Linked DNA regions of Homo sapiens: region 2 is linked to region 1. The links come from fine-mapping of genetic effects on gene expression. Tissue or cell type: whole blood. Region 1 holds a variant in brackets; the other region holds the start of a gene. All regions are shown on one strand. Distances are from middle to middle.

Evidence for each region. PIP is the estimated chance that this variant, and not a neighbour inherited with it, causes the effect.
Region 2: it holds the start of ATOH8, and the variant in region 1 is fine-mapped to the expression of ATOH8 in whole blood (GTEx, PIP 0.99).

The regions. Positions count from the first base shown.
Region 1 is chr2:85,470,443-85,478,686 of GRCh38, reverse strand. No RefSeq gene overlaps it. Among named protein-coding and RNA genes, the nearest start is that of SH2D6, 56 kb to the right of the region's middle. The variant A/G (reference allele first, on the strand shown) is at 3,759.
Region 2 is chr2:85,751,748-85,758,312 of GRCh38, reverse strand. ATOH8 (atonal bHLH transcription factor 8) reads right to left here and starts at 4,322. Exons shown (of 3, transcript NM_032827.7): 1 at 3,356-4,322. The coding sequence starts at 4,123.

The sequences.
Region 1 (8,244 bases):
GCGTGAGCCACCGCACCCGGCCTGTTTTCTTTCTAGAATACTTGCTGTTACATTCCTGACCCTCCAGGTAGGAAGTCTGACCACATCAAGGCCACCCTGCTGTGAGGATGCCTAAGTCACAGGGGCAGGCTGGGGAGAGAGACCCTGAGGTTTAGTCTCAGGTGAGTGCAGGCTTCGAGTTATTCCAGCCCAGACACCAGATTTGTGAGCAAGAAGTCTCCACATGACTCCAGCCCTGGCCATTTAAGTCACCCCCAGCCACCTGGGTTTCCCAACTGAGGCCCCAGGCAAGGTGGAGCAGAGCAAACCATACCTTCCATGCCCCGTTCAAGTTCCTCACCCACAGAGCCCATGGGTATAATAAAATGAGTGTTGTTTGGCGCCATTACATTTTGGAACACTTTGTCATGCAGCAATAGGTAGCTGGAACAATACCCAACAGAAACATGTACATAAATTCATCAACAGACAAACCTGAAAATATTCATAGCAGCGCTATTTATTAAACTGGTGACTACCCCAAACACCCATCAAACAGTGGAATGGATCCATAATTTGTGGTAATATTAACATGATGCAATACTAGACAGCAATAAGAATAAATAAATCACAGTCACACACAAAAATATGGATGATATATGTACATGAAAACACATAAATCATAGAGTACAGCTTGATAAAATTTCATGAAGTGATCACACCATGTGATCAAGAAACATAACATCAGCCATAACATAAGCCTTCTAGTCACTACTTCCTTCACGGGTAATCACTTTCCTGACTTCTAACATTATAGATTAGTTTTGATGGTTTTAAAATAATGTAGTTTTTAGCACACACAACAACCACACACAACAAGAGTTTCCTTGAAAACTGACTGGGCTCCCAAACTTTTTGCTTCCGCTTGGAACCAAGATTATTTGTTTTAACCCTAGAGACCCTCATCTGGCAGTTGCTGTCTCTGCTCTGCCCATCTGTCTCCTCTTCATATGCTGTTTGTTTGTTTGTTTGTTTGTTTGCTTGTTTGTTTTGAGACAAGGTCTCACTCTGTCACCTGGCTGGAATGCCATGGCACAATTTTGGCTCACTGCAATCTCTGCCTCCCAGGTTCAAGTGATTCTCCCACCTCAGCCTCCCAAGTAGCTGGGACTACAGGTGCCCACGACCATGCCTGGCTAATTTTTGTATTTTTTTTTAGTAGAAACGGGGTTTCACCATGTTGGCCAGGCTGATCTCGAACTCCTGACCCCAAGTGATCTACCTGCCTTGGCCTCCCAAAGTGCTGGGATTATAAGTGTGAGCCACCACGCTCGGCCATTCCCTTGACATACTGTATTCCATTGCTTCCAAGACACACTCTGCTTAAATTATTTATTGAATTATAACATCTTTACATGAAAGCCCACAAGCCATAGAGTACAGCTTGATAAATCTCAAGACTGCCAAAGAAATTTCAAGACTGGTCCGCCACAATCTGTGGCAGTTCAGCTCCCTAAAGCATACCCCAGGCCCTAAATCGGCACCAGCAGTAAACAGAGTGTAAACGCTGTGCAGCTCCAAGAAGCATACTTTCCATGCCCACTCAGATGTGGCCATGGGGCACAAGGGACAGGGAGGAACCTCAGAGAAGGCAGAGGCATGGCCACAAAGGATGATAGACTAGGTTGTTTCTCCCAGATGGGAGAACCTGGGGCTGCCAGATGGGCTACCAGGCAGCTTACCCCACTGCCAGTGGACAGGCAAGCTGGTTGGTTCTCTCTTTTAAGATGGTCTGGAGGAAGAGGGTAAAAGCCCTTGTCTCATGGGCCAGGTGTGGCGACTGGTCCCTGTAATCCCAGCACTTTGGGAGGCCTCAGCCAGAGGATTGCTGGAGTTCAAAGCCAGACTGGGCAACCTAGTGAGACCCTGTCCCTACAAAACAAACACACAAACAAACACAAACAAACAAACAACAGCTTCTCACTCAAGCTCTAGCTTATCTAACTCTCAGCCAATCAGTAACAAAAGATTCAAGAAGCCATTAACCCTTAATCACAAGCTCCTATTTCAGGGGGCTAGGGATTTCTCTGGGGCCCTGTATGTGCCGTTAGACTTAAACTACAACCTATAGTTACCTGTTTCTTATTTTAATGCTAAAAATAATGCCCAGGGGTAGAGATTTAAAATGCTAATGCTACATACAATGTATGAAGAAGCATGTTTAGCACTGCACAAGCACTAGAAAAATCCCTCCTCTACATGCCCTGACGTGACCCTTCCTTATAGAAAGACTAACCCACAGACTACCCTTGGGGAGGAGCCTGTGCCTTCTCCTTTCTTGTTGCTGGCTCCCTTGTGCACAAGCTAAAATAAACTTTTTCTTTGCTGCTGTGTCTGGTGATCTCTCTTTATTTCTATCCTGGGAGGATTACAAGAACCCAAGGTGCCAGTGACACCAGTGGCTAGAAGCCTCCACTCCTCCCCAGCTGGACTTGGTGCAGTGATAACTGCATGCTTCCCACTCCTCCGTTTGCCGAATGAGAGCTGTAATCATGTTAACCTATTCTTCTCAGTCCCTATTTTGGATGGATTGTCTTTTAGTTTATAAGTCACCAGCTCAGAAGACCTTTGTGCCACCCAAAGATACTGAACTTTGACCTATATGTAGTAACTAGATGGGAATTTTGAGGCTTCTTGGTTTTTTGTTGTTGGTGGTGGTGTGTGTTTGTTTGAGCTGGGGTCTTGCTCTGTCATCCAGGCTGGAATGCACTTGCTCTGTTGCCTAGGCTCCCAGGCTGGAATACAGTAGCATGATCATAGCTCACTAACTCCTGGGCTCAAGTGATCTTCTCATCTCAGTCTCCTGAGTAGCCAGGACTACAGGTGCATGCCAGCAAGCCCAGCTAATTTTTTAATTTTAATTTTTGTAAACATGGGGTCTCACTATGTTTCCCAAGCTGGTCTTGAACTCCTGGCCTCAGTGATCTTCCCGCTTAGGTCTCCAAAAGTGCTGGAATTACAGGCACGAGCTACCACACCTAGCTGTGCCTGGCCCATTTGAACAACTGTTAAGTGCACAGTTCAGTGGTTTAAATACATTCACATTGCTGTGCAACTATCACCATCATCTACCTCCAGAACTTTTTCATCTTTACCAACTGAAACTCTACCCATTAAAAAATAGCTGCCCGTTTCCCCTTCCCCATCTGTTGACAACGACCATTCTACTCTCTGTCCCTATGAATGTGTCTACTCTAGCTGTCTCATATAAATAGAATCATATAGCATTAGTCTTTTTGTGACTTGGCTTATCTACAGGGTTCATTCAGATTGTAGCACATGTCAGAATTTTGTTCCTTTTTATGGCTGAATAGTATTTGATTGTATGTATATACCACATTTTCTTTATCCACTCATCTGTGGAGGTACACTTGGGTTCCTTCCCTCTCTTGCACATTGTGAATAATGATGCTATGAATATATGAGTGTGTGATGTCTCTTTGAGTCCCTGCTCTCAATTCTTTTGATTATACCCAGAAATGTTTGTAGTTTTAAACCACTAAATTTTGGGGTAATTTTTTATGTTCCACCACAATAGGTAACTAATATAGTGGCAGATTTGAGAGCTATCACAAAGAAACAGAAACTATTCCCCCCACATTTTATTATGAAAATTTATGTATCATGCAACATTTTCTAATGCACAGAAAAGTTAAAATAACTTTTTAATTAACATCCATATACCACCACCCAGATTAAACTACTTTTAATAGTTTACA[A/G]TATTTCCTTTATAAATTAGGTTAAATCGGCCGGGCACAGTGGCTCATGCCTATAATCCCAGCACTTTGGGAGGCCGAGGTGGGTGGATCACCTGAGGTTGGGAGCTAAAGAGCAGCCTGACCAACATAGAGAAACCCTGTCTCTACTAAAAACACAGAATTCCCCGGGCATGGTGGTGCATGCCTGTAATCCCAGCTACTCGAGAGGCTGAGGCAAGAGAATCGCTTGAACCCAGGAGGCGGAGGTTGCAGTGAGCTGAGATCCTGCCATTGTACTCCAGCCTGGACAATAAGAGCGAAACTCCATCCCCCGCAAAAAAAAAAAAAAAAAAAAAAAAAATATATATATATATATATATATATAAATATAAATATATATATATATATAAATATAAATATATACATAATATATGTAGGCAACTTTCATGTGGTTCAATCTTGTTTCTTTCTATATTTTTTCTGAACCATTTGAAAATATGTTGAGAACTTCATATTACTTCACCCCAAAATACTTAGGCATCTCCTAAAAATCAGGATATTCTGATAATAAACACTATTATCACATCAAAGAAAATTACCCTTAAGTCACCTGAGAAAATTCCATAGTGAAACCTAATATATATACCATATTCACATTTCTATGGTGGTCCCTGAAATGTGTTCCATAGCTGAATTTTTGAACTAGGATTCAATCATGGTTTACACATTGTGCTTGGTTATTATGTCCCTTTGGTCTCACATACATTATTTATAAAAGAAGAATTCTCAGCCCTGTGTCCATGGTCGCCAGGGGATCACCAAAAGTCCTGAGAGCTAACAGATGTGTGTGTGTGTGTGTGTGTGTGTGTGTGTGTGTGTGTATAGATGTGCTTTTTTTCTGGAAAGACAACCCAAAGTGTTGCTTAGATTCTCTACGTAGCGTCCACCAAAGATTGAGCACTAGTGATGTAAAAGTCACAGATGATTGATTTGAAGAGGGAGAAAACCCAAACTCATGACTGAACAGTAGTCCACCAGGAGGCTGGATATGCAGGGAGTGATACAGCTTTAGACAAGTAATGAAATCTCTTTGTTCATCTCTAATTTGGGGACGGTAATATTTGTATATCAACCTCAGTGGAAAGATGCATGTGAAAAAATGTTGTACCATCAAAATCTATACCAACATTAGTTACTAAAACTACAGGGAATTCAAGTTCCTGAGACCTTTGCACATGGGCCTCTGCCCACATTGCAGTGAGAGAGAAGGTATGAAGTCTCAGGCTGGTTTCTTGGAGTTCCCCATTCTCTTCACACTCGGGGTGATGGAACCCAGAGACAAGACAAGGTCTGGGCTCATCTCTTGGGCAGGGTAACACCTGCATGTTCACACATCAGTTGCTCTTGTCTTGTCTGGCGGGGGCCCGATTGGCAGCTTGGCTAGACTCCTGCCTAGAAATGGGATGGAATGGGAATAGGCCAGGACTTGTCACTTACTCCCACTAGAGCCCTTTCTCCAAATCTTTATATTCCCTCTTTTACCATAGGTAGCTTGTGAAAGTTACTTCAATACCTTTCCTATGGAAAACAGTAATCTTAGTTTCCCATGCTTCTTCCAGAGGCCTTGGAGTATTGGGCATTTTGTAAGGAAATTTGTACCGAGGCAGGGCTGGGTATGGTGAAGGGGCTGGGATCAGGACCTAGGCTTCCTTGGCCAACTGTTTTAACCAAGTAAGGTAAGAATGATCAATACCAGGTGGCCTATGAAAACTGGAGGCCGCCCCCCACCCCACCAAAGATTTCAGTTGAGGAGAAAGAGCTATAAAGCCATATGAGCTATATTTTAATAAAACATGAGCTTTATAGATAATAAGCTTAGGAAGATTTAGTTGGGTGAATTCCTAATAATACTTCCTCCAAGTTCTACGCCAGCTTTTGTTCTCAAATGCCAGGTGTGAATTTCTCAATGTAATGTCTTTATGAAACATGGCAAGTTTAAACATAACCATTCCACTACTGCTCTCCTCTGAATTCTGTTTTATGTTTTCAGAATGGTTAAAAACAAAGGAAGAATCTTTAAAAAAGTGTTTGTTAATCTCTCAATAACTTTCTACTTAATAGCTAGGAACTCGACCAAGCTATGTGATCTTTATAAAACCTTAGACTACTTGAGAGCTGGTAAGAAGATAAAGTTCAACAGATGTGAGTTTGGATTAGCTGGTGACCTAAAGGTTGGTAAGCTATTTAACATCTCTAAGCCTTTCTGTCCTCACTTGTAAAGGGGAATACGAAATTTATTCAGTAAATACGTTTTGAATGCTTGCCACATACCAGGCCCTGTTGTAGGCACCAGGGATACAAGGATAAACAAGACGAGCTTCCCGCTCTCATGGAACTGATCACAGAACATGAATATTCAACAAGAAATTACATAATTAATTGTAGTTTATGCCAACTGCAATAACAGCACCTACCCCAGCAGACGTTGTGAGGATTAAATGAGTCAATGTGCAGTCAGACACATTCAAAACTGTTGTCATAATACTATTTATAAAATCACATGGGCAATAGAGTCTTGCTAACAGTCCTAAATAGTATAAATGCATGTTGGGTATTAGATCCTCTTTTGTTTTTCACATATATTTAAATGGCAACTTGGTTGTGGGTCCCTTATAACAAATAGGAAGGCATGCTTTCCCTTGATGTTGGAGACACGGTCTTACCAACCTAAGGAAGGATGAAGCTGAACTTGTTTATTGCTGTCAAAAAGAGCAGTTCAGGCTGGGGGTACTGGCTCACACCTGTAATTCCAGCACTCTGGGAGGCTGAGGAGAGTGGATCACATGAGGTCACAAGTTCGAGACCAGCCTGGCCAACATGGTGAAAATACAAAAAATTAGCTAGGCGTGGTGGCAGGCATCTGTAATCCCAGCTACTCCGGAGACTGAGGCAGGAGAATTGCTTGAACCCGGGAGGTGGAGGTTGCAGTGAGCCAAGATCGCGCCACTGCACTCCAGCCTGGGTGGATGACAAGAGCGAAACTCCATCTCAAAAAAAAAAAAAAAAAAAAAGAACAATTTAGCATTGCCATTAACTGGATCAGCAATGCCTAACCCGTAAGTCTTGAGTCCTAGGGGAGTGGGGGGTTAGGGCACAGAGTCTTTGCCAAATGTTCCTAAATCCTTACATGTCCTAAGTATTGTCTGTAGAATGAAAATATCTTTTGCCTACATATGGACATTGTCATAATCTATGTAGCTGCTGATGGGATGAATACAGTATAGCTTCCTTTAAATGAGTCACTGAAGTTTTACTGTGCCCAGCATTTTTTCATTATGTATTTTCTCAGTCAAATCTTATCCTGGGCAGGCTGCAGTGGCTCATACCTGTAATCCCAGTACTGTGGGAGGTAGAAGCAGGAGGATTGCTTGAGACCAGGAGTTTGAGACTAGACTGGGCACTCAGTGAGACCCTATCTTTACAAAACAATATTAATAAAAAATAAACCAGACGTGGGGGCATGCACCTGTGGTCCCAGCTATTCGAGAAGCTGAGGCTGGAGGATCACTTGAGCCCAGGAGGCAGAGGCTGCAGTGAGCTACGATTGCACCACTGCACTTCAGCCTGGGTGACCGAGCAAGACTCTATCAGAAAAAAAAAAAAATTATCCTGCCTTTTCCTGGCTGAAACCCTTTAACAGTTCCTCATTTGTCTCAGGATAAAGTCCAAATTCCCTCCCAGGCACAACAAGACTCTGTTGACCTTTCCTGGCATAGTGCCTGCCCCACCTCCCTCCCACCCCCATCCCACCCCCATCCATCAAGTTCTGACATGAAGCCTCTTCCAGGCCGTGGCATAGAGCCCTGGGGCCCAATTCACATATGCGGGCATCAACAGACCCAGAGCTCCTGAATAGGAGAAATACCCACAGCTCTAGCAGGTGTCATGCCAGCTGAGGTGGCACCAGTCCACTGGGGCACCGGATGCGGGTGGGCCTCCCCTCACAGTAACTTCTTCCTCCAGTTGCCGTTGTATCAACCCTGCCTCGCCGCTGCCCCACCACCACTCCACAAGCCAGTTTCTGAATTAAAGCCATTTTCCTTTCAGGGGTTTTAAAAATAAGCAATCCTGGAAGTAATAAAGCTTCTTGATTATCAGTTTTCCATGGACTCGCTTTCTTCAGTGTTATTTGGAAACCCAAGGTCCATAATGCCAGTGCCTTCACAGGCTGTGTATGTGAATTATTTACCCCCTGGAGAAAGTCATAGACAGCTGCAGCGAGGGAGTGATAAAAGTATTTTTTGGCCGGGCACGGTGGCTCACACCTGTGATTCCAGCACTTTGGGAGGCCAAGATGGGCGGATCACCTGAGATCAGGAGTTCGAGACCAGCCTGGCCAACATGGCAAAACCCTGTCTCTACTAACGATACAAAAATTAGCCGGGCATGGTGGCAGGCACCTGTAATCCCAGCTCCTTGGGAGTCTGAGATAGGAGAATCGCTTGAA
Region 2 (6,565 bases), 280 kb before region 1:
TCACCATCTGTGAAACAGGGCAGGGGGTGCAATAATATCTATTTCATTAAATGAACTAATACACATAACAAGCTTAGCACCATGCCTGGCACAAAGTAAGCATGTGATGAATGCTAATTTCTGTGACAGTTATTAAAACAATTAAAGAATTCTTATTGCTTCATCTGTCGAGAGCCTTGCCCAGCCCTGAGGACCTTGGAGATGCTTAAGAAATGTTCAGTGCTCTGGCTGTGCACAGTGGCTCATGCCCGTAATCCTAGCACTTTGGGAGACAGAGGTGGGTGGATCACCTCAGCCCAGGAGTTCGAGGCCAGCCTGGGCAACATGGTGAAACCCCCATCCCTACTAAAATACAAAAAATTACCCAGGTGTGGTGGTGCGCACCTGTAATCCCAGCTACTCGGGAGGCTGAGGCAGAAGAATCACTTGAACCTGGGAGGTGGAGTTTGCAGTGAGCTGAGATCACACCACTGTACTCCAGCCTGGTCAACAGAAAGAGACTCTGTCTCAAAAAAAAAAAAAAAAATGAAATGAAAGAAATGTTCACTGCTCTTATAGGCCTCCTACCTTTCCTCACTTTCTCTTCTCAACACTGGATGAGGTCAGCAATATTACCATTTTACAACTTCAGCAACTGAGGCCCAGAAAGGGTCAGTGACTTGTCCACAGCCACACAGAAGGCATGCAGGGGAGGAACAACTCAATGCCTGGCCTCCAGTTTCCCAGATCAGTGCTTCTTTCATGGTACCAGGAAGCTGCTCAGGAGAATGAAGCCCCAGGCCAGAGCCACAATCCCAGAACCCATCTCAGTGCCACACTGGCCAAGGCCCCATTTCAGGCGGAGCTGATCTGCCTTTTGTCCATTTCCAAGGACCCATTTCAGTCAGGCCCGAGCCTAGCTCCAGAGCTGCAGCTCGTCTGGATTCGGGGAGGGGGTGCGGAGTACATTTTACAGAGAAGACTGAGGCCCAGAGGAGGAAGGGGCTCCTCCAGAACACAGGACTTCCTCTATCGAATGGGTGCCATGGTGGTGAGGAGGACATGGTGGGTGTGGCCTTGGCCCCTGGTTCTATGACCAGAAACGTCCTGGCTGTATTTCTTTCCTTCCCAGCTAACAGGCAGGTGCCCACTATGGCCTGGCAGCCTTTCTGGGGAAGGGGCAGAATGGCTAGGGCAAGGAGGAAACAAACAGGAACAGGTGCTTCTGTGACCATGCATTTGTGTGTGCTCTTGAGCACGTGTAAGGAGCATGTGTGTGTGTACCTGCCTGTGTGTTTGCATTGCATACACACGCTCTCCCTGAGAGGGCATGGGTGTGCCTTCTACTTAGATACACTGAACTTGCCCTTTTTATAGAGAACTTCCCACGGTAAGGGGGGAAGTAAAAGGAGACCAGGATGAACAATCTCATCTCAAAGGGTCTGCCAAGTGTGCACCCTGCCTTGATTGTTAACAAACATCACAGGCTGGGGGCTGGGGGGGTGGCACATGACGCTGATACAGATGGCACTGTGGGAAGCATTTGGCCAGGAGGGCATTCCAGAAACTGCTGTTATCTTCCCTAACCCACTAGGTGACCTTGGACAAGTCTCCTTCCATCTCTGGGCCTCAGTGTTCCATACTATAAAATGAGTTAATCCAATTTCGACAGGGATTATGTTTAGATCAAATGAGATGGAATTGATTGTTGAATGAAGTAAAAGTCAGTGGGCACATGAGATGTAACAAAGCACTCAGATGAGTATTCTCTCAGCATACAGAGGCAATAGAGGAGCACAAGGGCCCAGAACCTGCAGTCAAAGCCCCTAGGTGCCAGCCCTGACCTGCTACTCAACAGCTATGAGGCTCTGGGCACGTGCCTCCCCAGTCTAGGAGGGGCTTCCCTAGTGGCAAGGTGGGCAGGTGGACAGGCATCTCTCTGCCCTTCTGTTATCCTTCTGTCCTGGGGAGTGGGTTGCAGGATCCCCCACGCACCGCCACCTCTACCCAGCGATGCAGACACAGAGCTGCTGGCTCAGGGTGGGACTGACTGCTCCACTGGACCCACCGCCCAGGGTTCCAGCTGGTGTGGATGAGGGCAGAGGCCCAGCCTGGTCTGTGACAGCCACCCGTCCCCCACCCCCACCCCCACCCCACCTCACTGACCACTTTCCCCAAGCCCAAGCAAGACACTTTGGCTCAAAAGTCATAGGGCCTCTTTCCTCCAAGGATTCAATTTCCTTTCCATGGATGGACACAGGCACTACTGCCCCACCCCACCCCAACCCCCAGCAGGAAGAGGAGAGTGATCCAAAAAGAAGATCATGGTTTCTGAAATGTTTTGTTGCTGGATAAAGCCCAGAGAAGTTGAGCAACATTCCTGGAGTCACACAGCAAGTCAGCTGCAGAGTATGCAAATAAAAAGAAAAAAAAAACACCCTTCAAACCAGCCACATCTACCCTAACCCTTCCCCACGCCCTGTGTGGGGGTGGGAGAGAACTCACCACCTCCTTCCTAGAGCTCCTTCTCGCTAAGAAAATAAGAAGCCTAGAAGCCCAAGCGATTGTCCCGCCCCACCACGGGTAATTCTTGGGTTAAGTATTCTTCCGCTACCTGCGCAGGGGCACTGTCTGGTGAGGGCAGCCCGCACCAGCCCCAAACTAAAAAGTCCCGGACCCACCCCAGAACTAGGCTCTGAAGATGCTCCAGAGGGAATCCCCAACCTAGGCAGTCCCCTCGGCAGAGCTGCCTGCTTCACCACGGGTGAAAGGAAGGGATCTGCTAGAAAGACTCCCACCAGCCGATTCCTGAGCCCACCCCTGGGGAGAGGGCACAGGCTTGTAGCGCGGGTTCTTGAGGATGCCAGGGCAAGGAGTGCATAGCCCGGAAGCAACCTGAGTGTTCGGGGCATCACCGCTGGGGCCTGAAGAGGGGCTGACAACTCCCCCGGACTGTCCCACCGCAGCGTTCCGGACCTTGCCACCACCAACTGGAGAAGGCTCCCCCCTTCCTCCGCTGACAGATTCCCACATTTCCCCTCTCCACTCCGCACCGCGCCCAGGGGACTCCGGCAGGCAAATACTCGCTGCCATAAAAGTGAACTATGGAGGCTGAAGTCAGAAGCGCAGACAGCGTTACCCCCGAGGCGGGGGTTGAGGGCGGGGGGTGCTCGGGCCAGAGATAACCAACTCTTATAGCCACTTTGAAAACTATGATCCATACCCTAGGACTGCCCACACCTGTCTGGGCACCAGGGTCGGACCGGGCGGGGCAGCTTGCCCCTTAAACACACCTCTATCCCGCCCCGGCCACTCGCCCACCCATTCCCGCAGTCGTCCCCCGGCGCAGTGAGGGCGTGCGGCGGCGAGCGGGTACCTGCTTCCTGAGCGCCTCGAAGGCTGCGCTGATGGTGTGCACCCGCGTCCGCTCCCTGGCGTTCGCCAGGAGCCTCCGGGTCTGCTGCAGGGCTTTGATCTCGGAGGAGGCGGCAGTCGCTTCGCCCGGTCGTTTCCTAGGCGACGCGGAGGAATCCTGGTGGTTATTGTAAATTACGTGTGAAATTGACGAGTAGGAACTTTCCCCGGGGCGCGTCGGGGGCGCAGGGCGCACAGTGGACTCCGGGGGCGCTGGCGGTGCTGGGGGTGCTGACGGCGCGGGGCGCGCGGGCGGTGCGCACAGCAAGATGCGAGGACGCAGACCCGGCTCCCGGAAAGGCTGTGCCTCTGGGCCCCCAGGTGCCTGGCTCTGGGGCGCAGGAGGCGGCGGCGGCGGCGGCGTGGGGAGTCCTGGCCCCACTGCGCCTAGGGCGAAGCAGCGTTTCCGCGCGTCGGAGACCTCGGGCGCCCGAGAGCCCCCGCGCTCCCCGGCTGTGTCCGTGCCCCCTCTTGGGGGAACGGCCGGCGCCACTGGGACTGGCACCGGCACCGGTACCGGGACCGGCTGCAGCCGATGGGTCCTGTCCCGCAGCCCGTTGGTGGCTACGGCGCGGGGCTCGGGCGCTTCCAAGTCCAGTCGGAAAGTTTTATAGCCGTTCGCGCGCCGCGCCGGCTCCTTGCCTTTCCGCTTGAGCTTCTTAAGGCCGTTCAGCTCCTTCACGCACACGGTCTTCCACGGCCCGTCCTCGAGGACCGGGATGTGCTTCATGGCGCGGGCGGCGCGCGAGGCAGGGGCGTGGGGCTGCCCGGGCCGCCGCCGCGCTCAGCGCCGAGGAGTCTCTGGCTCTCCCGCTTCGCCCGCCCTCCCCCTCCCTCTCTCCCTTTCTCCCCCTCGCCCCGGGCAGCTGCGCCGCCGGCTTCGGGAAGCCGCCGGGCTGTCCGTTCCCGGAGCGCTCAGAGTGTCATCTGAAGTCGCTGCCTCCTTGCCAGCATTTCTGGAGAACGCCCGCTGCGCTCCATCTGTGTTTGTTTAGCCTCAGTTTACACAGAAGCCCAGTTCGCGAGATCAGTCAGCGCCGCCGCCCGGAGAGGAGGCAGCTCCCGCCGCCACCGCCTCCCCAGCCCGGGCCGCCCGAGCCGCGAGCGCCTTTAAAGAAACAGGAAGCATTTTTCAAAACAGCTGGGCCGCCGGCCGCCTCCTTTGTCCGCGGGCTCCCTACCTCCCCCCCACCCCCATCCCCTTGGCCCAGAACCTGCCTCCTCCGGCGCTCCCTCCCCGCCCCTACTCTAGTCGGGGGCGCTTCTATGTTCCCAGAGGACAGTCCGCTCCTGCACAACCGCCCCGAGCACGTGACTTATGGGCCCCCGGCCCTTCCCCAAATCACAGCGGGGCCTTTTCTCCCTGGCCTTGCCGGCCTCTCGGTGACGCAGCTCCGACCTTGCCCACCCGGCACCTTCCCGCCGCTCCCTCCGCCCCAACTCGCCACGAGACAGAAAACGCCGGGAGCTGGGACTTCTGCTGGGGGCCGATGGGGAAGGGGAGACTCCGGAGTTGCCCGGCGACCCACACCCGCCCGGCACGGCAACCCAGTCCACTCTCACTTGCTGGAGCGGGAAAGCAAGAGGAGCAGAGGGCTTAAGACAGGGAAACTGAGTTTCCGAAAGCTCCAAAGTCACGCAGCAAGTCACAGAGGCAGAGGAGGGTGGAAGCTTCGGATTTAGGCAGACCTAACGTCTGCGAGCCTCCGCAGTCACCTCACTCCAGGCGCCCTGCTAAACCGGGATTTACTCATCTGTGAAATGAGAAATTCGGAGAACAACGCCTAAGTCACAGCATTGCTCTGAGGAATTAAAGCACTAGGCACATAGGAACGGGTCGTCAAATGGTAGCTGTGGTTGTTGTTAGTATTATTTATTGAGGCAAAACAGCTACTTGAGGCAGATTTCCTGGGCTCAAACCCCAGCTCTGCCACTCACTGAATGACCTTGGGAAAGTCACTTAACCTCTCTGTGCCTCCCTTTCCTCACCTGTAAAACGAGGGTCATAATCGTACCTTCCTCCCCAGGCGGTGTGAAAAGCGTGTATGCGCAAGGCACTCAGAGCAGTGCCTGGCACCAGGTGAGAGCTTTGCAGGTGCCCACGGTTATTGGCAAGGGGCAGAGGTAGACCCCCCAGACCCTCAGTCATCAGTGCCATTCCACTGGAGATTCTGGAAAGAAGGGGTCAAACTAGTAGGCCCTCAGATGTCCTTGCCAGAGGACTGCTTCCCAGCCGCTCCCTTCCGAGGCTCAGAACAGGGCTTCACTCCTTGCTGGTCCCTTCTCTGTGACTGTTACTCCTTAAGGAAGGTGGACACTAAAAGCCAGCAAGGTGGTTTGGGAGAAGATGGACCCTTGACCCTGGCCTTGAACTCTGATGAAAACACAAGGGCTCACACAGAGTGGAGTGCTTCTCTCCTCCATGGGAGAATGCCTAGGGGTGGAGGAGGCAGATGGCACGCAGGGTGCTGGGAGGTGGGATGGGGATCTGGGCATAGCTTTGGGGGCAGGAGCATGGAGCTCCAGCCAGCAGCCCCGGTTGAGCCTTGGTTTGTCAACGACGGAACCCCATGACCACGAGCAAGACGTTTCCTCCCACCGTCACTCTTTTCTGTCTTTGAGGATATTTCCAGCCAACCTTCTCAGGGTAGCTGGGAAAGGACAAAGAGATGGATGTCAAAGGACTTTGACATAAGACTTCAAACATAGACACACACACACACACACACTGAGGCATGCAGTTTTCTGAATATAGTAAATGCAAAATCTCATTTTGCCACCAAGGTGGGTGCCAGCATCATAAAGCATGTGCTCCCGGAGACATCGTCTTCCCTGGACACCTGCATATTCCTGCACCTTATCTCTGTCCTGGAGACCAGGTGTGTGCTGCCAAAGAGGAGCCCTCATTCTCCTGTCGTTTCCCTGCTCAGCCTCGAACCCTAAAGTTCTGGCCTTTGCTCCCAGGTCTCCCACGGCTCCCCTTTGCAACGCACACTCTTCCTCACCCTTCGATGAACAGCTCCGGTCCCCCTCCTCCCGCGAACCTTCCCTGCTCACCATAGCCTCCAATTGCTCTTGCTGGCCTGTGTGCATGCTTGCTCAAAAGTCCTGCTGCAACTTAGCCTCCACTGCAGCCCTGTTGGAACTCCTGGGCTTGTGCGTTCCTCAAAGG